3 linked regions of the Homo sapiens genome follow. The protein of the gene in region 2 interacts with the protein of the main gene of each other region in a biochemical or structural test. Each region holds a gene or a part of one and is shown on either strand. Other genes may lie near its edges.

Region 1 (7,775 bases), on a different chromosome or scaffold from region 2:
TTGACATATGTTTACAACAGCACACTGTTCAAGAGGAAATCTCATCTTTTCACAGCAAGCAGGTTGAATCACCCTGAGCCCACCTGGGGACCCACCCCAGGCCTGAGAGCTCCTCCTGGGATGGGGAGAAGTGATGAGAGGGGGAAATATGAAGATGAATGAGGTGGCTTGCCAGCAGCTCCTCACTTTTCTATTAAGAAAGAAAACAGACCAGGGACGGTGGCTCACTCCTATAATCCCAGCACTTTGGGAGGCCAAGGCAGCTGGATCACCTGAGGTCAGGAGTTCAAGGCCAGCCTGGCCAATGTGGCAAAACCTCGTCTCTACTAAAAATACAATAATTAGCCGGGGATGGTAGTGGGCCCCTGTAATCCCAGCTACTCGGGAGGCTGAGGCAGGAGAGTCGCTTGAACCCGGGAGGCGGAGGTTGCAGTGAGCTGAGATTGTACCACTGCACTCCAGCCTGGGTGACAGAGTGAGACTTCATGTCAAAAAAAAAAAAAAATTGAAAACAGCACGGGGTGGCAGGGGAGAAGAGGTGAAGGATGGCTGACAGCTAAGCTGGAGAGGGGCACCCAGGATGGGAGAAGGCAGAAGCTGCTGGGTGAATAAAACAGGCAGCCCCTCCCCAGCAACCCTAGCCTTGAACCCTGGGCGATGAGGTGGGGGTGGAGGGGCTGGGCCTCTTCCATGTCCTTTTGCAGGACTGCCTTCCCATAAGGAGAGGCTGGGCATCACAATCTGGCTGAGAATAAAATTAAGGAGTTTCGGGGAAATGCTGCTGTGAAGAAAGACTTGGGCTTGGAACTCCCACTCTGTCTTTTTGGGGGACAACTCCTCTTTGGCAGGGAGTAGGGCAGCTGCTTTTCTGGCTCCCAAAGCCCAAGGGTGAAGAAAAGTCTGCTGGGGAAGAAGAGAGTGGAGCTTCCTAAAAGAACTGAGACCTTTGCAAGAGTGATAGAGGATGCCCCTGGGGAGGGGGGAGGGGGAAATCAGCAGTTCATGGGGGAAGTTCAAACCCCAGAGCCTCCTTCCAAAGTCAGTCGGCTTCCTGGATTTGTTAAAATGGAATGGGGAGACACGGTAAGGTGGGAAGGGTGGGAGGGGTGGAAGTAGAGGAAGGAGGAAAGGGGACACTGGTGGAACTTAAATAAGATTTTAATTGTTTTTTGTTTTAATTTTTTATTCTAGCAAACAGCCCACTGAACATGGCACTAAACCTCTCTCCTTCCCAGGCAGGATTACGCCAAAGGGTAGGTGTGCTTTTCATTCATCCTCTCTTAGTAAGTGGTGCCTGTTCAGGGCTGGAGTTAAGTTTGAGCCCCTCTTTCCACACCGTGTCCCTTGATACAACAGCAAGACCTGGCCTGAATAGAGCTGAGAAACTCGTTTAAAACAGGCAGAAGGGGGCTGGGGCAAGGGGGACCCTGTGGGAGGAGAAAGAGAGAAGCACAGAGGGACCAGGAAGGCATGGGGGGGGGTGAGGGAGCAGCTGGTGTTTCTGTTCCTCCAAATATCTGGGCTTCCTGCTCCCCCAACCCTGGAGGGTGGGGTGAGGATGAAATTAGATACAAGGAACTCTGGGGCCCTCTGGCTGTTCAATCCAACCCTCCCATCCCCCAAACCACCAAAAACAAAAAGGAAAGAAAACCCACAGGGGCACAAGCACACCCCTAAAACTCAGAAAACTCCTTGGCACACTTCTCATTGATGGAGATCCGGAGCTCTTCCTCCTCGTAGTCGTCAAAGTTACTGGCATCCCCAGGGCCTGTGTACTTCGGGATGAAGGGAGCTTCCACCTTCTTCTCATAGATGGCGATCCAGCTGGTTGTGGCGAACCACTTGTGGTTCTTGATGTCGCCAACCCCGTTCCTGAGGTTTCCGAAGCGCTTGGTGAGGTCCACCTGCAGCAGGCTCCGCAGCAGATGCTTGAGGTCAGAGCTGAGTTTGGAGGGAAACCGCACCCTCCCAGAGACGATCTTCTCGTAGATCTGGATGGGCTGGTCGGCGTAGAAGGGTGGGAAGCCCACGGCCATCTCATAGATGAGCACCCCTAGGGCCCACCAGTCCACGGCCTTGTTGTAGCCTTTGCTCAGGATGATCTCGGGGGCCAGGTACTCTGGGGTCCCGCACAAGGTCCAAGTGCGGCCCTTCACGCGCTTGGCGAAACCGAAGTCCGTCACCTGCAGGTAGCCCTGCTGGTCGATGAGGAGATTCTCGGGCTTCAGGTCGCGGTGGATGAGGTCGAGCGAGTGTAGGTACTGGACGGCCAGGACGACCTGGGCGGCATAGAAACAGGCATGGGGCTCGCTAAACCTTCCGACGCGCTGTAGGCGGGAGAACATCTCCCCACCCGGCACGTACTCCATCACCAGGTACAGGTAGGAGTTGTCCTTAAAGGAGAACTGGAGCTTGACGAGGAACGGAAAGTCGATCGCCTGCAGGATGCGCTTCTCGTTCAGTATGTGCTCGACCTGCTTCATCTTCACCACCTTCTGCTTGTTGAGGATCTTCATGGCGTAGTGGCCGCCGGTCTCCTGGTGCCTCACCAGCATCACCCGCCCGAAGGAGCCCATGCCCAGCGTCCTGAGCCGTTCGAACTGATCCGAGCTGGCGGTGTTTTGAGCGGGGTTTCCCCATCTGTAGAGGAAATCTCCTCTGGCTTTGGCTAGGAACTCGTTCACGCTCTCCTCCTGCTCGGTGTCCTTCTTGGCGGGGGCGTTGCCCATGGCGGTGGCGGCGGCAGGGGCGGGGGTCTCGCGGCGGCGGCGGCGGCGGCGGCAGCGGCGGAGATGGCGCCCCCTGGGGCTGGCTGCGCTGGCTGCGGCGCTGCGACCCCCGCCCGGCCTCCGCTTATATTCCCAGCTACATGGGAGGCTGAGATGGGAGGATTTCTTGAGCCTGGGAGGTCAAGGCTTCAGTGAGCCAAGATCACGCCGCTGCACTCAACAATATGGATAAATCCAAAAGGCATTATGCAAGTGAGAGAAGCCAACTCTAAAGGAGACTTACTGTATGAATCCATTTCTATGACATTCCAGAAAAGGCAAAACTATAGTGTGAGAGAACAGATCAGTGATTGCCAGGGCTTGGGGTTAGGGGACGGTTGGACTATGAAGGGACAGCCTGAGGGAATGTGGGAAGTGGTGGGACATGTTTGTATCCTGATTGTGCTGGTGGTTACAATGTATTGGGTGGTGGTCTACATTTGTTTTAAAACTCATAGAACTGGCCGGGCGCAGTGGCTAAAGCCTGTAATCCCAACACTTTGGGAGGCCGAGGCGGGCGGATCACAAGGTCAGGAGTTCGAAACCAGCCTGACCACCATAGTGAAACCCCGTCTCTACTAAAAATACAAAAAAATTAGCCAGGCGTGGTGGCGCATGCCTGTAATCCCAGCTACTCGGGAGGCTGAGGCAGGAGAATTGCTTGAACCTGGGAGGCAGAGGTTGCAGTGAGCAGAGATCGTGCCACTGCACACCAGCCTGGGCAATAAGAGTGAAACTCCATCTCAAAAACAAACAAACAAACAAACAAACACCTCAAAGAACTGTATACTTCCCCCCAAAATTCAGTTTTACTGCATGTAATGTTTTATTTTAACACATACATATGATTTCCTTTCTTCTGTTTGCTTTGGGTTTAATTGCTCTTATTTCCTAAGGTGGGAACTAAGGTCACTGATTTGAAATCTTTCTTCTATTACAATCACTTAGTGCTATAAATTTCCTCCTAAGTATTATTTTTTGCAGCATCCCACAAATTTTGGTATGTTGTATTTTCCTTTTCATCCAGCTCAAAATATTTTCTAAGCTCCCTTTTCATCTTCTTTGACAGATAAGCTATTTAAAAGTATATTATTTCGTTTCCAAATACTTGGGGATTTTTCAAGAATTTTCCTATTGATTTCTGATTTAATTCCATTGTTAGAAAACATACTCTGTGTGACCTAAAATGTTTTACACTTCTTGGGGCTCATTTTATGGCCCAGAATATGATCTATCTTGGTAGATGGCCCATATGCACTTGAGAAGAATGTATATTCTGGTGTATTCTGCTGTTTGAGGATACAGTGTTCTACAAATGTCACTTAGGTCAAGTTGGCTAGTAGTAGTGTTCAGGTCTTCTATATTCTTATTGACTTTCTGTTTACTTATTCTATCAATTATTAAAAACATGCCACAGGAGTTTATGAGAAGTCAAAGTACATAGATGATGGGCCTTCCATCACTCCCCCAGGCCACCATGTCAGCCGCCCCACACACCCTCCAGAAGACTGCCAGCACTCAGCCATCACAGGGTGGGTTCTGAGCTGCTCTCCCCAGTCAATTCTGTACAAAGATTCTGTCCTACATCATAAACACTGAGCTACAGGAATACCCATTTATCCTCCTATTTTCTCTCCATCTTGCCCTTTAAGTTTGACAGCTAATTCTGCCTACCCACCCTGGCTACACCGCCTGTAGCTAGTGCAAGTAAACAACACACTTTCACCTAGCCCTGCAGGCTGAAACCAAGCAAATTGGAGAGGAATCCCTGATTACTTGACTCCAAGTAGAAGGTTTCTATTGTGACTGTGAATTCTTGCCGCTCAGTTCAGCAGATGTTGGTCAAGCAGGTGTCTATTGTGTGCAAGGCCTGGTTCCGAGTTTACGGTTTAATCTGGGGCCAGTACTTGGGTACTGACTGTATATTCAGAGACGGTCAGGTTAGAGAGGAAGAAGAGGAAAGGAGAAAAATCTACTGTTGATCATCTGAACTTCCACAAAAGGGAAACCCACATTCCCTCAAGAACATAGCAGGGGGGTCAATTGCCCCTTGTGCTTTGGGTCAAGGCAAATCCCTGGCAGATGGAAATTCCACGTCTCCCCCATAATCTCAGTGATTTCCTCTTCATTTTCATCACAGTAGATCTGCTAAAATTCTGCCCATTTCTGACTTACCTCCAGATTATTCAGTAGAAATTTATACACAAAGAGCAATTAGTGGGAAGCCATTCTCTTGGACCGACGCCTTGGAAGTGGGACAGTTTGTTTAGAAGCAGGCTGTGCCATTCCATGACAAATTCTTGTGGCATTAATCTCTGAAGTTCAATTAGGAAGACACAGGGGTCTAGAGGGAACATATGCTGCACACTAGAAATGTCCCCATGCTTCGTTTACAGGTCAGAACATCAAGTATTTATCCCAGAACAAGCTGCAGAATAATTACATTTGTTATTTCTCTCCACTTTCCGTTCTGCTTTTCTCCATGGCCTTGGGGAGCAAGGGAGTCCTTAGCATGCCAAGGAAACAGGAATCCTTTTGCATTCAGATAAACCCTTTCAGAAGGAAAAGATTTGTGTAGCAAGATACAATACCTCTGCATGATCTGCTTGGAGCTTGCCTAGGGGGCCAAATGAAGAGGTGAAAGCCAACTCTGCTTTCCTGTATGCCCAATGAAAGGCAATCAAGACCATTCTTCTCCCAAAAAACTGCTCACTGGCAGTCATGCCAGCTGATTCTCCTCTTTACTGTTTATATAGCAGTTTCCAAATGGCTAATTGCATAAGGCTTGGATCATTCAATTCTAACTTCCTCTCTATCTCCAAAATATTGATGGGAGCAAAGAAAAGAACAAACTCCACCAGGATTCAAATAAGAAATAAACTACAAATCTCTATCACTCAGGGAATTATTTACATAACACTGCATGTTCTGGTCCAGAAATACTTATCATACCTGGATTTTGACAAGCCAGCTTCTATTAATAGTTTGTTTTCTCCTTATTAGCAGAATATTGTAAAAGAACATTTTTGAACACAAAGTTTCTATGTCAGATTTATGATCTATAAAATGCTGATTTAAAAATTGGCGTGGCCTTTGTTATATGAAAGATGAAAAATTATGGGAGTCAGGAAGTTCAGAAATAACTTAATGACAATAATTTATAAAGTACTACATTTATTTAAAGTTTGGGCAATCATTCATCCCTTGGTACCACTAATTTTGCCACAATTTTTTTTTTCTTTTTTTTTGAGACCGAGTTTTGCTCTTGTTGCCCGGGCTAGAATGCAATGGCACGATCTCGGCTCACCGCAACCTCCACCTCCCGGGTTCAAGCAATTCTCCTGCCTCAGCCTCCCGAGTAGCTGGGATTACAGGCATGTGCCACCATGCCCAGCTAATTTTGTATTTTTAGTAGAGACGGGGTTTCTCCATGTTGGCCAGGCTGGTCTCGAACTCGCGGCCTCAGGTGATCTGCCTGCCTCGGCCTCCCAAAGTGCTAGGATTACAGGCGTGAGCCACCGTGCCCGGCCACCATAATATTTATAGAAGTGGCTTGACACACATGATAATGAGCATTGTAATGTTTTTGGGACCTGAAAAGAAAGTAGTCCTAGAAATAGGCCCAACTTGCTTACCTAAAAATATATCTTCTGACATATAAGAACTGCCAAAAGTGATTACCCCTAGGGAATAGCACTAGGAACTTAGAGAAGCATAAATTAAAGGAAGGAAAATTTTTACTTCTCACTTTATAAGCTTCTGAATTGCTAAAATTAATTTTGAGCATGAATTACTTTACTTATTAAAATAAAAATGAGGTAAAACATTGGTTTCTCACAAATGCATTTACTTATATTTTATATGTCACTTTTATATACTGTTTAAATCCACAAAAGGGAGACAATTTTTATAAAATTATTTTCCCCATATTTTGTAGTTCTCCTTCGTTTCCTGGCAATAGCACTCTGTTTTATCTTTGAGGGATTACTTCTACCTCATTTCATCTGATTCTGTTGGGTTCCCAATCTAACCCACTCACCTGAGTCAAAGTCAGGGATGGCCACAGGACCCAAGATAGATCGATCAGTTTATGTCTCTCAGGAATTGAATCTTGAGCAGAGACACAGGGGGATTTGAGGCATTTGTAAAGGAGCCATCCAAATACAGCATCTTAGAAGGCTGTCCATGTTTCTACAGCTGTTGGCCAATAAGTTCCTTGCCTTCTGTCCTGAGCCCTGGTTTTTCAGTTCTTCCTTTATGTGTCTTTCCACATAAAGGAAGCAAAGCTTTTTTTTTAAGCAAAGCAAATGGGACAAGGCGGGGGTGGGGAAGAGAAAGAAAGAAACAAATTTATTGAAGACAATAATGAATTCAGGATTGAACACATTGAGTTCATAGGTCCTTAAGACATTCAGGTAGAGATGTCTAATTAGCCAATGGAAATCTGGGATTGAACTTAGTAGACAGATAAGCACTGGCAGCACAGATTTAAGTGGTATGAGAGTGTTAGCCAAGGAACGTGAGCCGAGAGAGAACAGAGTCAAGGAGGGGGATTGTGGGAAACTCCACTATCTGAGGATGGGGGTAGGAATGTCAGGCACTGCTATTTGCCCACCATGGCTGTGTCTTGTGAGGCCTGCCGTACTCAGTCCTTCTGAGACCTTGAAGAGAATTTCTTGTGCACACCTACACAAGAAGTGGGCATTGTCACATGGTTGCAATGTGACTGCACATGTATAATGCCTAGTAATTATCATGCAACATACAGACAGTACAGCCGAGTGGCTGAATGGGAAACTGTACCCAGGACAAGATGTTAGATACAGATAATATGGACTGCGACAGGAGCTTCGGCACTCATGTAAAGTATAATGGCATATGAGTTTCTTGGTGACCTCTTCTGCTATCACTGTAACAGCCTACATTTCATGATGAAGAGTTGAGGCCCTCAAGAGAAACAGAACAGGAGAGCGCTTGATGATTTCCTCTGAAATCTCATCTGCAGCA
Region 2 (7,765 bases):
TCTGCAGTAAAGTGAAGAACCTATCCCTCAGGCCTGCAAATGACAATATGCAGGATATATTGTCAAAGATCAGCAGGGCTGGATGCTAGTAAAAGTGGTAAGGATACATCTTAATGTCAAAGATAAACAAAGCTGGATACTAGTTAAGCGAATAAGGACAGATTTTAATCAGTAGTGCTATTGCAACAAGGAAAAAGAGTTCAGCATGAACTGAACCTGATTTGATTTGTACAGAGGTGACTGGGAATATTAATGGGAGAATGAAGATTAGAGAAGGGGCGAGCAGGAGCTCAGTAGAGTCAGAGGAGTGAAAAGTTACAAAAGGTTCATTGGTGTAAATGTGATTAGACCAGCTATGTCTGCTAACTGGCAATTGTCAAAGTTAGTTAGTTAGGATTCTGTCCTCCAGAGTCCTTATCCTTAGATGTTGTCTGGAACTGTTGATTTTTTTATCAGCCTGGAGTTTTCCCAGGCAGGTACTTTAGTGGAGGGCTGGGATCATCCTTGACATGCAGTCTTGAACAGTTAGAAACTATATTTATTAGTGTTTGTTCAAGTCTTTATAGACCAAAGTTGAGGCCAAGTTGAGAAGAGGGCTCAGAGGTACCTGACTAGAGTTTGGTCAAGGAGAGAATGTCAGTATGGAGTTATTGGTGACTTCAGCCCAATAGGGAAATTCCAGTCTTTCATTTAATCACTAGGGATATTTTGGTAAGTAAAGGAAACCAACATATGAACCAAATGTAGACCCTCACAAGAGAGTTCTCATCCTGATGTTTTTCCATCAGGGTATTAACATCTGGTGCTACCTAGCACTTGTTCATGGTTTATAAAGTTTCCATAACAGCTATTTAGAAAGAAAACGTCTCATCTTCCCAACACTGTATAGCTTCATATGTACCAAAAATGCCTTGTACAAATTTTTTAAAGAATAGTTTAAAAAATGGATGAGATGTAAAGTTGTGCAGATGTAAGTATGATCCGTATTTCCAGGGACTATAGCTAAGCGTAGTGATGTTTAGACACAATATGTCTTTGAAAAAGAATGTTTCTTTATGGTAAAAAATCAAAAGCAAAAACAAAATTTTAACCAGAGTAATACTGGAAAGCTTAATCAAATTGGTAAATAAGATACATTGTGTAATATTTATTAGTACAATGTTGTACTAATAGGTAATACCTGTGTAGGTTTTTGGTTAATTTATCTAACAAATACATTTATAAGTTTATCTTCTATGGTGCTTATATGCCTATATTTCTTCTATATGAAGTTGATTTTTACATAATAGCACCTAGAAGAAGTTAGAAAGTTAGAAGAAAAAAATGCAGGCTTTTCAAATAAAAGATAAGATAGATGTCAAATGTGCAGAAGGTCTTGAGTCTTGCTTGGCATTGGAGAATATTCCACTGTTGTGGTTCTTTCATATTATTGCTATATATGTTCATTGTCGGTACAAATACTTTTTTTTTTTCTGAGACCCAGTCTTGCTCTGTCACCCGGGCTGGAGTGCAGTGGCGTGATCTCTGCTCACTGCAACCTCCGCCTCCCAGGCTCAAGCAATTCTTGTGCCTCAGCCTCCTGAGTAGCTGAGACTACAGGTGTGTACTACCCTGCCCAGATAAATTTTTGTATTTTTAGTAGAGACGGGTTTTTGCCATGTTGCCCAGCCTGGTCTCAAACTCCTGAGCTCAGGTGATCTGTGCGCCTCGGCCTCCCAAAGAAGTGCTAGGATTACAGGCATGAGCCACTGCGCCCGGCCTACAAATACTTTAAAGAACATGAGTTGAAATCAGTAATACTTTTTAATTGTAAAGTATAACTATTTTTAATATTTGGCCCTCCTTTAGTTCCATAATGCTTCAAGTGGTTACTATTTATTGCCAGAGCAGCATCCTTTTTGTGAGAATAAGTATGATGTTCCTGCTGCATAGTTTTCTTGTATTATCTCAAATGCAATGTTCATATTTTCAGGATTCCAGTCAAATTGAGCTATTAAAAGAATTAATGGATCTGCAGAAGGATATGGTGGTCATGTTGCTGTCCATGTTAGAAGGTAGTTTTGATTTATACTTTTAAATTCTCTTTATTATCTTATTTAAAGGATCAGCATGGGCTTATGGAATCAGAGTGTAGCATAGAATAAAATAGCACTCAGATATGATAGATGCCTTGGATTTCTTGCTGGCTTATTATTCTTTTTCTCACATTAGTTTTTTTTTAAAGGGAGATCCTGCATATCTCAGTTTACATATCTACAAAATGAAAATAGTAGTACTTTATAACAGTACTTTTCATTTCATAGTGATATCGTAAAAAGTAAGCTCTCCAGTCTATAAAGAATATTTTATTTGTTAGTGTGTTTGTCCATAATCAGTGGGGGTTTCGGACATTTGGGTAACAGTCAGCTGTGTAAGCTGCTGCTTTGAAAAGACCACAGAGTCACTCCTTTGGGTTCTTAAAGCCGTGGCACTGCTGGGAAAGCCTCTGTCCCCCAGGGCAGCTGGCAGTGGTAGTCTTGTTCTCCCCACCACAGCCTCAGTTTTAATTTTCTCTTTTTTTTTCTTCCCAGCTTATTTTGTTATTGCTTTTTTTTTTTTTTTTTTTCCTGTAGCAGGCAGGAAATGTAGCAGTTAAGAGCTTGGGCTCCAAATCCACCGCCAGAGTTTAAATCCTGGCTTCCTTACCTCTGGGAGGTATGACCCTTGGACAAGCTACATCTCCATTTTTTCAGTTTCCTCCTCTGCAAAATAGAAATGATAGATATTGATATGAGAATTCAGTGGAATCCTATAAATACAACCAAAACAACTAAGAAATGTTTGGTATTACGGTGCCTATCACTTTTTCTTAACTTCTTCCTATTTTCTCTCCGTGTCTGCCATACATGGCGTAACTCCACTTCAGTTAACTGAGGCAGCTGTCACGCCTCGTGCTAGGACTTTGAAGTGGCAGCATCTGCTTAAAGCCCTTAGTCGGTGGCAACAGTAGCCACTTTATACCCTTTAAACACAGGATCCATTTTTCCATGCATGGCCCCGATTCGAATTTTGGGTTAAATACTAACAAACAGCAACAATAATAACTGCAGTAGCAGCAACCACAGCAGTGACTTAAAACCAGCCTCATAACGTGCCAGATACTGAATTAAGTACTTATTTAATCCTAGTAACAAGTTTATCAGTTCAATGGTAATATTATCTCAAGTTTGCAAATGAGGAAACTGAGGTACAGAGAGGCTAAGAAATCTGCCCAGGTTGCTGAGCACATTAAGCCTGGATTCAAACCCAACAATGTGGCTCCAGATCCCACACTCTTAACACCACGGTGCTTACTGCTTCTCCGATTGACTCTGTGGACCTCTGACCAGCGACCTTTCTTCTCCTGCCTGTCTTTATGATATATAGCACGTTCTGTTCAATGAATAAAAGCATTCTGTGATCCTGTAGTTCAGGAATCTGCCATTTTCTAACAACTATACACACTGACTCATGAAGAAATGTAGAAAGGTGCTTTTCATTATGAATCAGAAAAAGCGTACAGTTTGCTCTCAGGATCTGGTCTGAAGACCTGGCACTAACCTTTAATAATTAAGTCACAATGGGCCCATTAATTTAGTCTTGTTGAACTTCAATTTCCTCATCGGTAAAATTAGGGTTAACAAAAAGTACCTGCCTTACATATGAACATTAAATCAGATATTGTCTATGATAGTGATTTTTCAACTCTAAAGGGCTGAGCAAATGTTTATTTTTATTATTAATATGAAACGATTTTAGTTTCTGGCTCTTTGGCTCATTTTCTTTATCTAAAACATGTTGCTTCTTTGATTGAGGGGAAAAATGTCAACTTTTGTTGAAATATTTTATGTGTGTCAGTCTAATTGCTCTGTAAATAGGGTTATGCATGTTTGTGTAATCATTTTTTAAACTATAGTTTATAAATAATTATCTTTTTATAGAGTGAGAGATAAACAGGGACATATCCTTGATTCAGATGTTATTAAAGATCTACATTGTTATCTTCTGTATGATCACTGATTTTGTTAGTTTATTTTAAACAAATGCAACTGCTTTACCACCAGGTAATGTTGTTAATGGAACGATTGGCAAACAGATGGTGGATATGCTTGTGGAATCTTCCAACAACGTGGAGATGATTCTCAAATTTTTTGACATGTTCTTAAAACTAAAGGATTTGACGTCGTCTGATACTTTTAAAGAATATGACCCCGATGGCAAGGGAGTCATTTCCAAGAGGGACTTCCACAAAGCGATGGAGAGCCATAAGCACTACACGCAGTCAGAAACGGAATTTCTTTTGTCTTGTGCGGAGACGGATGAGAATGAAACCCTCGACTACGAAGAGTTCGTCAAACGCTTCCACGAACCTGCGAAGGACATCGGCTTCAACGTCGCCGTCCTTCTGACAAACCTCTCTGAGCACATGCCCAACGATACCCGACTTCAGACTTTTCTGGAATTAGCAGAGAGCGTCCTGAATTATTTCCAGCCCTTTCTGGGCCGCATCGAAATCATGGGAAGCGCCAAACGCATCGAGAGGGTCTATTTTGAAATCAGTGAGTCCAGCCGAACCCAGTGGGAGAAGCCCCAGGTCAAGGAGTCCAAAAGACAGTTCATATTTGACGTGGTCAACGAAGGCGGAGAGAAAGAGAAGATGGAACTCTTTGTGAACTTCTGCGAGGACACCATCTTTGAAATGCAGCTGGCGGCTCAGATCTCGGAGTCGGACTTGAACGAGAGGTCAGCGAATAAGGAAGAAAGCGAGAAGGAGAGGCCGGAAGAGCAGGGGCCGAGGATGGCTTTCTTCTCCATTCTGACGGTCAGGTCGGCCCTGTTTGCGCTCAGGTACAATATCTTGACCCTTATGCGAATGCTCAGTCTGAAGAGCCTGAAGAAGCAGATGAAAAAAGTAAAAAAGATGACCGTGAAGGACATGGTCACGGCCTTCTTTTCATCCTACTGGAGTATTTTCATGACCCTCTTGCACTTCGTGGCCAGCGTTTTCAGAGGCTTTTTCCGCATCATTTGCAGCCTGCTGCTTGGGGGAAGCCTCGTCGAAGGTGCTAAAAAGATCAAAGTTGCAGAACTGTTAGCCAACATGCCAGACCCCACTCAGGATGAGGTTAGAGGAGATGGGGAGGAGGGAGAGAGGAAACCCCTGGAAGCCGCCCTGCCCTCCGAGGATCTGACCGACTTAAAGGAGCTGACAGAGGAAAGTGACCTTCTTTCGGACATCTTTGGCCTGGATCTGAAGAGAGAAGGAGGACAGTACAAACTGATTCCTCATAATCCAAATGCTGGGCTCAGTGACCTCATGAGCAACCCAGTCCCCATGCCTGAGGTGCAGGAAAAATTTCAGGTAATTTATCTCTAAGTCACAGCAGCATTCTCTCTGGACTTCAGGTGGGTATAATAAATGATCATTAGACCAGGTTTCATGCTAGTGCCAGAACGGTGTTACCTATGTGACTTGAATTTCCAAAGAGAAATGCTTTTTGGTAGACAAAGTTAGTGTTTTTAAGAGTCCTTATGAATTATTAAATTATCTTAAACTATTATGGTGTAAGCTTCAGTACCCACCCTAACTGTAGCCTACATCTTTCTCCACGTTTATATAATTTTATATGCACATTTGAAAAGTTGGGAAAAGAAAGAAAACTTTTAGATACCTGTAAGTGGCATTATTCTCACAGAGCATTGAAATTTTCTCCTCTGTTCTGTGATTTTCTTTGGCATGTTTTCATTGTATGTTCTTTGTAGTCATTAGTCCATAGAGCCATCATTCCATCCATGAATATGGCATATTTTCCAAGTGTCTGACAGACACCACTGGGTATCATAGGGAATTCAAAGGTAAGATGGGGTCACTGCCTTCAAATTACCTTAAAAAGTTTATTCCAGAGATAAAACTAACACACATGAAGAAACTAGAAAAGGGTTAACTGTGAAATAGTATAGGCAGGGCAGTAGGGGTTGCTTATGTTGAGAAAATGGCAATGCCGCTATGGTTTAAAGTAGTTAGATAAGAATGAAGAGGTAGGACTTAAACTGGCATTGAAGGATGAGTAAGATTTTAGTAGGTGCTTAAGATAAAGAAGGATATTTCTAAATGAGAAAAGAGAGTGAAAAGGAGTCCAGAAAGTTTGTCCCTGCTGCTGGTGCAGTAGGTCAGTGTGCAGAAGAAGCGGGAGATGTTTGGCCCTATAAAATGAAAAACACGTGGCGCTTTTATCGTGGTATAAGCAAGAGGGTATCTTATATAGGTTATGGTTTGACACATGGTCACATGGCTCCCTCAATTCATTCAAAGGTGATGGGTAATCCTGGTTTTCTTTTCCCCATTGACTCATTCAAGGAACAGAAGGCAAAAGAAGAAGAAAAGGAAGAAAAAGAAGAAACCAAATCTGAACCTGAAAAAGCCGAGTATGTATAGTTTGCATATACTTTTCCTTCGTTTCAGTTTGTCATTACATCTCTTTTTCTTGTACTCTGTCTTTGGGAGCTGCAAGGGAGAATCTCATATTGTCAAGGAGCCACAGAACTAATTGTGCCATCTCCGTGGAGAGGCTCTGACAGCGAGGACCTCAGGCCATGGGCAGGGATCACTGTAGACGCCCCCGGGGCTGCCAGTCTAGTCTTTTCCTCTCATTCCATGGGGACCTCCATTTGTGTGATTCCCTCTCAGCAGGAAAGACTCCAGTGATTGCATGGAATGCTGTTTGTAAGAGGACTCAGGGCCACAATTCTGTCTTTAAAAATCACTCATGTCTTTCTGTCCTTTCCAAGAAGGGAGGAAACAAACATTCCAAATGCGCTTTCATAGAATCCTGTGGAGTGGTGCTCCTTAAACCATAGACCCAGGACCACATGCATAAAAGTCCCCGGGAGAGTTGGTTAAAACAAACATTCCTGGGCCCCAAGCCATAGATCCTGCCTCAGCAGGTCTGGTGTGGGGCCTGGGAGCCTTCATTTTCACCAACACTCCTGGGATCAACGCAGCAATAAAAAAGAGCTGGATGTGAGGCGATGAAAATGCATAACTCCCTCATAACACCAGGTTTCTCTGAATAATCGAAGCCTACATCTTTCTCCACGTTTATAGAATTTTATACGCACATTTGAAAAGTTGGGGGAAGAAAGAAAGGAAGCTTTTAGGTGCCTGTAGTGCCACTATTCTCCCATAGCATTGAAATTTTCTCCTCTATTCTGTTATTTTCTTTGGTCTGTTTTCATCGTTATGTTTTTGTAGTCAGCACTATTCATTGTCATAGATCTCACACTATTGGGTCAGTTGTAAAAATGGCCCCATAAAAAGTAGACACAAATAACAGCAAGACAGGCATTTCAATGGCAATTCTTTAACTAATATATACCTCATATGAGTTAAGATTAAGTATAGCTTATATATATTAATATTTCTGGTTTATGTATTAATACATATGACTTCACTTTAATTTAATGAAGGACTGATATTTTGCACCTAAAGGATATCAAATGTCAATTCTTCTAATTCCATTATTGTTGGAATTAATATATCATTACTATAATTCACTTTATTTTATTTAATAAAATTAATTACAATTAATATATGTCAGAGTATAATGATACACTTTATACATGTGAACAATTAAGTGTGTAGGCCTCTGATTTTAAATCTTAATGGAAAATGTTAAAAATTGTGCATTAAAATTATAGGCTGGGCGTGGTGGCTCACACCTGTAATCCCAGCACTTTGGGAGGCCGA
Region 3 (7,765 bases), on a different chromosome or scaffold from region 2:
TCTGGATGTGGTCGGCGGTTACTCCCTAGAGAACACTGGTCAGGGATGATTGGGAAATCGTTGTGGCCTGCCTCAAATCAGCCCCACACAGTGGGGCATTTCCAAAGCAAGGAGACAACATTCCAAAGGCAGGGTGTGCAGGGATGAGCCCTGGACACCAGAATACGTCTCAGACGAGGGGAGGGGAAAGGAGGAGCGTCTCGGGCCATAGTTACTGCTCCTGGCACCCCACCAGGGTGTAAACTGTCACAGGCCAGTGCCCTGTTTTCCTGCCCTGATGGTGGCTCTCTGGCTGGCTTTGCAGGTCGAAGGGCCTCCTTCCACCTGGAATGTCTGAAGCGACAGAAGGACCGAGGGGGAGACATCTCTCAGAAGACAGTCCTGCCCTTGCATCTGGTTCATCATCAGGTAGCTCACACTTTTGGACAGGCCACTGTCACCTGCCAGCAGGCCAGACAGTCCCCAGGGTGACGGACAAATCCTGAAGACTTCAGTGGGTCTTGCCTGTCTCAGATGGCTGGCACGTCCTGCCCCTGCCCTAAGAGCCATCCCTGTAGGGCTTCACACTCCTGTGCAGGTGAGGGCCACGGCAAGGTCTGCAGCATCGCAGGTGGGGGCCTAGGAAGTGCTGGTGCACAGGAGCTCTTTGTGTGATCCTGAGGACCCACAGCTGCAGGTTCCACCTGAGCTTTCTTCTTAGGCTGCCACAGATGCCACTGACGCCTCTGACACTGGCCTATGCCTCAGGGCACTCAGGAAGATGTACTTGTACCTAGAGTTTGAATATACCTGGAAATTTTGCCACACAAAAATCCATCCAGTGACATAAAGAAGTGATTAAAGAACCCACCAGCAACATGGTCAAGAGTAGGGAATGACATCCGTGGGAAGCAGGTCCAGGGAGATTCCATAAATGAAATGTCTCTTGGCATGGCTGACTCCAGCTGAGACAGTGAAATCCAAGATGCCAGGACCAAACATGCCTTAGTATCTTTGAACTTCAGTGTTATCTAAGGCCAGTCTATTAACCCCAGGCAAACTGAGGTCTAAACCTGGGTTTCCCAACATTCTGACCTTATTAAAGTTATACTCTTTTATAGCATGGACCTATGTTTTAAATAGACCTATGCTTTGTACCCAAAGGCATTCAACTGCCAATCAAAAGTCATAATCAGCATGAGATGGCCAGTGTGGCCTGGCTGAGTTGATAGTACTTCAGCTCCAAAAAATAAACAGGTTTTCTTAGCCTGTGTGGTGTTGTCTTCCACTGGGCTTTCTGAAATAATGAATATGGCCTTACACTTTTCTCAGATTCCCAGGGACCCAGGAGCCCCAGGCTGAGGACCACCATGGGCAGGGGCAGGAGGTGGAAGGATGTGGGGACACTGTGTGTGCTATCTTAAAAGATTTCTAGAAGTCGATTTCACCTATCTGTTCTTGTCGTACTGGTAGGCACGAAACTCTCCTCTTCATCTCTTTCTCCTCCTGTACTCTGTGACCCTAGAGGTGGTCTTTCCCCACCACAGTGTCGCTCTCTCCCGGGAGCACATCCCATCAGAGCAGCTCACCCTGCAGAGCCTCTGCCCTGGCAGGTTGTCATGGCAACAGCCAGACAGGCCTGGTCCCTACCCTCAGGATGCTCAAGAATATTCAGGGACAGAGGGCGTACCGTGTGACTTTTTTTTTTTTTTTTTTGAGACAGAGTTTTGCTCTTGTTGCCCAGGCTGGAGTGCAATGGCACGATCTCGGCTCACCACAACCTCCACCTCCCGGGTTCAAGTGATTCTCCTGCCTCAGCCTCCCAAGTAGCTGGGATTACAGGCATGCACCACCATGCCTGGCTAATTTTGCATTTGTAGTAGAGACTGGGTTACTCCGTGTTGGTCAGGCTGGTCTTGAACTCCCGACCTCAGGTGATCTGCCCGCCTTGGCCTCCCAAAGTCCTGGGATTACAGGCATGAGCCACTGCTCCCAGCCCTGAATCTTTTAATCACAATACAGCACCGGATTTAACAATGGCTCAAAGACAACCTGAGCTAGAGACTGGCAGGGCATTATGAATGGCCCCATTAACTGTGAGAACTAAAACCACAAATACTGGTTTTCCCAACTCTTTGTGAGGTGCACAGCGCTTCTTCACAGACCTCATTGCGCTTGAGCCTCACACCAGCCCCACAGGGCAGATGGATAGACAGCATTCGTTTTCTGGCTTTACAGACATGCAGGCCTCACCCTGCTCTCCATTCTATTGAGGACAAAACCAAGAGCGAGAGAATGCACAGCTGACAGGTGACCAGGCCAGGGCTAAAAGCAGGTTACCACGACTTCACCCAATCCCAGCTTTCAGAAGTTACAGGAGAAAGAGATCACTTCAGACCCAGATGATCCTAAGATGTATTTTGAGATAGTTGAAAGTCATGCCAGGTTGAGATAGGACCGACAGGGGAAAATAATGGCATGGGAATACCAGGCAGGTGGAGCTAGCTGGACACAGCAGCTGCAAAGCAGTGCTTGCTCAGAAGCAGGGGCCTGCCTTGTTTGGGGTCGGCCACTCCTATTAACTCACACTCCTTGTGTGTCCGCAGGCATTGGCAGTGGCAGGCCTGAGCCCCCTCCTCCAGAGAAGCCATTCCCCTGCCTCATTCCCTAGGCCTTTTGCCACCCCACCAGCCACACCTGGCAGCCGAGGCTGGCCCCCACAGCCCGTCCCCACCCTGCGGCTTGAGGGGGTCGAGTCCAGTGAGAAACTCAACAGCAGCTTCCCATCCATCCACTGCGGCTCCTGGGCTGAGACCACCCCCGGTGGCGGGGGCAGCAGCGCCGCCCGGAGAGTCCGGCCCGTCTCCCTCATGGTGCCCAGCCAGGCTGGGGCCCCAGGGAGGCAGTTCCACGGCAGTGCCAGCAGCCTGGTGGAAGCGGTAGGTGACTCGCAGATGGGCAGGGGGGAGAGGCCACGGGCAACAAGGGGACTTGGCATGCGGGGCTGAGAAGGGAGCACCTGGCTCTTGCCAAATTCATTGCAGTCAATATCTGAGCCCGAAAGACCCTCCCTCTCAGGGCTGCAGGAGGGCTCGTGTGCGGAAAGCCATGACTGCACAAGATGCTATGGGCTCTCTTGAGGCTGGGCCCACTGCAGAGGGCGGCAGAAACCACTGAGCAACTTATCCCTTATACTGCAGCTGCTCGACATGCAAATGTGAGCCTGGCTGCCTTTATACACAGACAGGCAAGATCCAAGGTGCTCAGGCCTGACTGCCCGTGAGCATCACCTGGGGAGCTTTGGAAACCCGGGACAGATTAACTGATGATTGTTAAAGCTCTTCGATGATTTTAACGTGTAGCAAGGTTGAGAGCCACTAGCCTAGAACAAGCGAGCTTTCAGTCCCACTGTGCTCTGCCTGGTCAGAGCATCTAGTGCAATCCCGGCACCACATTATTAGGGACCTTTGACACACTGGAACAAACCCAACAGAGGATGACCAGGATGGCAAGGTTCCTAGAAACCATTTCCTAGGAGAACCGTTTCAGGGAATTCGGGAAGAAAACCTGGAGAGGAGGTGACTTTGGAGGGTGCGATACACCTCTCACACCTGCAACGGGTGGGATGGGGAAAGGGTGGCAGGCTCAGCCCACCAGCGGACAGATTTCAGCTCACATGGGGAAGACCTTCCCAAATGAGCTCTTCCAAGATGAGAGGGGCTTGCCTGAAAGGTAGTGAGCCCCCCATCATCAGACATAGCCAAGCAGAGACTGTGCTCATCCGGGCGTCAGGCTGTGGTGCAGGAGGTGGGGCGTTAAACCAGGTGGCTTCCAAGGTTTACCTCTCAAAGTCTGGTATTCCTGTGGCCTCGATCATCCTGCATTCATTTCACAGACCTTCCCTGAGCGCCTACCATGTGCAGGCCCTGTTCTAGGTACAGGGACACAGCTGAGAAACAGAGCTTCTGCTCTCATGAGCTCACATCATGGTGAGGAGAGACAGATAATAAACACATACATATATAACACATCAGGAAGGTCAGGAGTGCCAAAGAAAAACTAAGCAGGGCAAGGAGAGAATGAGTGGCGTGGGCAAGGAGCAAGACAAACAGATGCCTGAAAGGAGCGAGTGCCAGGCTGCACTCAGCTTCCCCCGACCCGCTGGCTCAGGAGCCGATTTTCCCATAGCCAGGCACTAAGCAGCCGGTAGGGAGGACAGAGAAGCTTAAGGGTCACCTGCTGGCCCTTCCCAGCAGAAGCAAGGCAGGGGCATGCGCCGTGTTTGCACAGATACCTCACCCCTGGAAAGGCAGCAGCAGGCAATGGGCAGTGGGCCTGTCTCAGCAGTTTCACCAGGGAGAATGGTTTCTCTGAAAGAATAGTATAAAGGTTCAGTGGGTGTCAGAAAGGAGAGAGGCAGGCTGGGATCTGCTGATACAGCATCAGGGCAACCCCCCGGCCCCTCTGAGAGCCAAACCTTCTCTGGTTTTTGTTTTGGTTGTTTTTTGAGACAGGGTCTCGCTCTGTCACCCAGGCTGGAGTGTAGTGGTACAATCACAGCTCAGTGCAGCCTGGCGCTGCTGGGGTCAAATGATCCTCCCACCTCAGTCTCTGGCCTTGCTAAGATCACAGGTGTGCATCACCACACCCAGCTAATTATTCTTAAATTTTTTGTAGAGACGAAGTTTCCCTGTGTTGCCTGGGCCTGGTCTCGAACTCCTGGGCTCAAGCAGTCCTTCTGCCTGGGCTTCCCAAAGTGCTGGGTGACAGGTGTGAGCCACCGTGCTGGGCCATAAGCAAGTCTTCATATATTTGATGACAGTGTTTGACCACCCCAGCCAAAACTTCTCTGGCCTGCACATCCCTAATTCTGGCAGATGCTCCATCTCCACTTGTTCCCCATGGGTGCCCCTCCCAACACACACACGTACACGTGCACACACGCACACTTCCCCAAGTGACCTACCAGATACCCCCTCGCTCTAGCCCTCAAGGGAAGAGCTGGGCTCCAGGAGTAATGTTCCTTTGGTTCTTCATGGCTCCCACCCCGCTCCTTCAGGTCTTGATTTCAGAAGGACTGGGGCAGTTTGCTCAAGATCCCAAGTTCATCGAGGTCACCACCCAGGAGCTGGCCGACGCCTGCGACATGACCATAGAGGAGATGGAGAGCGCGGCCGACAACATCCTCAGCGGGGGCGCCCCACAGAGCCCCAATGGCGCCCTCTTACCCTTTGTGAACTGCAGGGACGCGGGGCAGGACCGAGCCGGGGGCGAAGAGGACGCGGGCTGTGTGCGCGCGCGGGGTCGACCGAGTGAGGAGGAGCTCCAGGACAGCAGGGTCTACGTCAGCAGCCTGTAGTGGGCGCTGCCAGATGCGGGCTTTTTTTTATTTGTTTCAATGTTCCTAATGGGTTCGTTTCAGAAGTGCCTCACTGTTCTCGTGACCTGGAGTTAACCGGAACAGCGTCTTCATTCATTTCTGTTGGGACCAGACGCGGAGCCTGGGTGCGCGAGCCGCCCTCCGGGAGGAAGGCGCCCGGCTGCGTCTGCAGAGGCGGGGAGAGGAGGCGGCGAGGGTCCCGGGGCGCGAGGAAGGCGCCTGCCCTCTCCCAGCTCGCAGGCCCCGGGCCCGGCCGCGCCTCCGCGGGGAGAGCACCCCGGCTTCCCGCGCGCCCTCACCAAAAGGACCCTACAGCAAACGGGTGTCTTTCGACTCTGCTTGTAGAAACCATTTGCACATATTCTGTACGAGCCTCGCTGTCTCCCTAGAGCCAGGGCCCTGCGGATTTGGAGAAGGGAGCGGGGCAGGACTTCCAGGAGGACCCCAACCCGGCCCGGAGAGGGAGGAGGAGGCCTCCAGGGGCGCGGAGCTCTGGGGATGGGCGTCGGGCCGGCAGTGGTGCGGCTCACTCCGTCCCTGCCCACCTGCGACGGGATCCCCCGACCGGCACGGGCCACGCCGAGCTCCCGGCCAGCCGCCGGCCCGCAGGCAGCGCGAGGGAGGAGCTGCGCCGCCGGCTCCGCCCAACCAGGTGGTGCTGAGCTTCCGCTGAGCGCTCTTTTGTTTTGTGGTTTGACACTTTTCTTGACAGCATGTTGCAGTTTCTTTTCGGTTTTGGTTTTTTTTAAATGTTTTATTTTGCTTTCCCAGCGGGAGGGGAGGAAGAAGAGTGTTTACAAAGTCCTGTAGCCCCCTCACCTTTCTGTTTTCACTTTTGCCAATGTACATCGGGTTTGGTTTTCTTGTATTATTTAAACGGTTGTGGTTTCCTTTTTCCACGGAGGTTCAATAGAAGCCGCTGCAGGAGAGTTTTACCAACCATTGTGTATGCCCAATAATTTGTTATCATTTCCTTAGGTAGTAACCTATTTTTGTTCTGGTTTGGTTCGGTTATCTAATGGAAAGGTAACTGGCAATGCACTTGATGTGGTCTTGCACATGTGGGTGATAGAGTTGGGTTCCTTTTTATGCTGGGTGTACAGGTGGGTTTGGGAGAGAGGAGCATGCGCGAGAGAGTCTCCGAGTGTGTGCGACGCGTGTGTGTGTGGTGGGTTGTCTGTGTGCATATGTCCTGCCCGTGTATATGCACCCACACCATGTGCCCGTGCACACCAGTGACTACGCAGTCCCCCCTTTCTGGTTTAGCTGTGGGAAGATCTGAATCTGGGGCCGTTTGAAAGCAAAAACAAACCACTGTCTCTGCTTCTGAAACGGGAATCAGTAACTCTTTGCATTTTCTGTCCCACAAGATATGCAAAAACAATGCAATAATATTCATTTAAAAATACAATTGTGAGTTGTGTTGGCATTAAAACTGTATTTTAAAAAAAGACAGAAATTTAAGGGAAAAACACAAGAAGGCATTTTGCTTCAATATATTCCGTGTAATGTTTTATTGCATTGATAATGTTTCTGTTGAAGAAACCGTTATACTTGAATTCAGGTCAGTTTCAGTATTTTTCAAATATTTTTTTAAAACTGAATTGCAATTGTGCCAAGCGAATATAATGAATTGAATTAAGTTGGTTTTCGGATTCACTTCTTGTATATTTTGCTGCATGTAAAGTAAATCATTTTGTATTTGGAGTGTGACAAGCTTTACCTTTGAACTCAAGTGCTTTTCTATATGTGGTTGGGGGAAAGGGAACAAGTTTTCTTTAGTTTGCACAATGAGCAAAGGTATCACCAGTGTAGTCATTATTCTGCTCTCCACAAACAGGTTTGGACATTACTGTTTTGCATATCTTGTGTTTGCTTACATTTCCCTCAATTTTTCCAAAATCGTTTGCTGGGTATGTTTGTACCGCCTCTTGCTGTGAGAGACCAGGACCTATTTTATTCCAGTCTTCACTCTGTCCACTCTGCTCTGGTCATCTGATTTGGTACTTCTCCAAGAACAGCCCTTCACTGTGAGGTGCAGGGAGGCGTTCTGATGAGCCCTCAGTCACTGGGCCGTCATCCGCATCCCCCATGGAAGAGGTAGCTGGCTTTCCCTTCCCTTCCACCACACGGAATTTTCTCTTTGGCTTCCTTAGGAAAGTGTACACTAACCGGGAGGATAAAATTAAAGTCAGGCTGCTTGGAGGGAGGGGCATCCTCACTTCCGGATTCTTGTTGCTCTACCCAACAAGGACAGCAGGGGCTCGAGAAAGGAACTGGTGAAACCCTGATCCATCTGAAAGTCAACTCTGCGTGCTCCTTTCTCCATCCCTTCCTCACTCTGGAGCAGCCTTTCCTTCAGGCTTGCCCTAATGTTTGGGCTGCCGGGGAGGGGGCCAGGACAAG

Evidence for each region. Proteins that work in one complex are often made in the same cells at the same time.
Region 1: of the proteins of RYR2 (region 2) and PRKACG, one has a biochemical effect on the other in vitro, tested with the Homo sapiens proteins (one study listed by BioGRID).
Region 3: the proteins of RYR2 (region 2) and CACNA1C form a complex in vitro, tested with the Homo sapiens proteins (one study listed by BioGRID).

Annotation. Positions count from the first base shown.
Region 1 is NC_000009.12:69,011,364-69,019,138, forward strand, and holds PRKACG (cAMP-dependent protein kinase catalytic subunit gamma), read right to left. Parts: upstream 2,751-7,775; 5' UTR 2,730-2,750; coding exon 1,674-2,729; 3' UTR 1,141-1,673; downstream 1-1,140. UniProt on the Homo sapiens protein: Phosphorylates a large number of substrates in the cytoplasm and the nucleus.
Region 2 is NC_000001.11:237,779,593-237,787,357, forward strand, and holds part of RYR2 (ryanodine receptor 2), read left to right. Parts: intron 1-1,972; coding exon 1,973-2,054; intron 2,055-4,082; coding exon 4,083-5,380; intron 5,381-6,376; coding exon 6,377-6,444; intron 6,445-7,765. UniProt on the Homo sapiens protein: Cytosolic calcium-activated calcium channel that mediates the release of Ca(2+) from the sarcoplasmic reticulum into the cytosol and thereby plays a key role in triggering cardiac muscle contraction. Aberrant channel activation can lead to cardiac arrhythmia.
Region 3 is NC_000012.12:2,685,862-2,693,626, forward strand, and holds part of CACNA1C (voltage-dependent L-type calcium channel subunit alpha-1C), read left to right. Parts: intron 1-304; coding exon 305-408; intron 409-2,585; coding exon 2,586-2,918; intron 2,919-4,278; exon of another isoform or gene 4,279-4,349; intron 4,350-4,945; exon of another isoform or gene 4,946-5,038; coding exon 5,039-5,338; 3' UTR 5,339-7,765. UniProt on the Homo sapiens protein: Pore-forming, alpha-1C subunit of the voltage-gated calcium channel that gives rise to L-type calcium currents. Mediates influx of calcium ions into the cytoplasm, and thereby triggers calcium release from the sarcoplasm.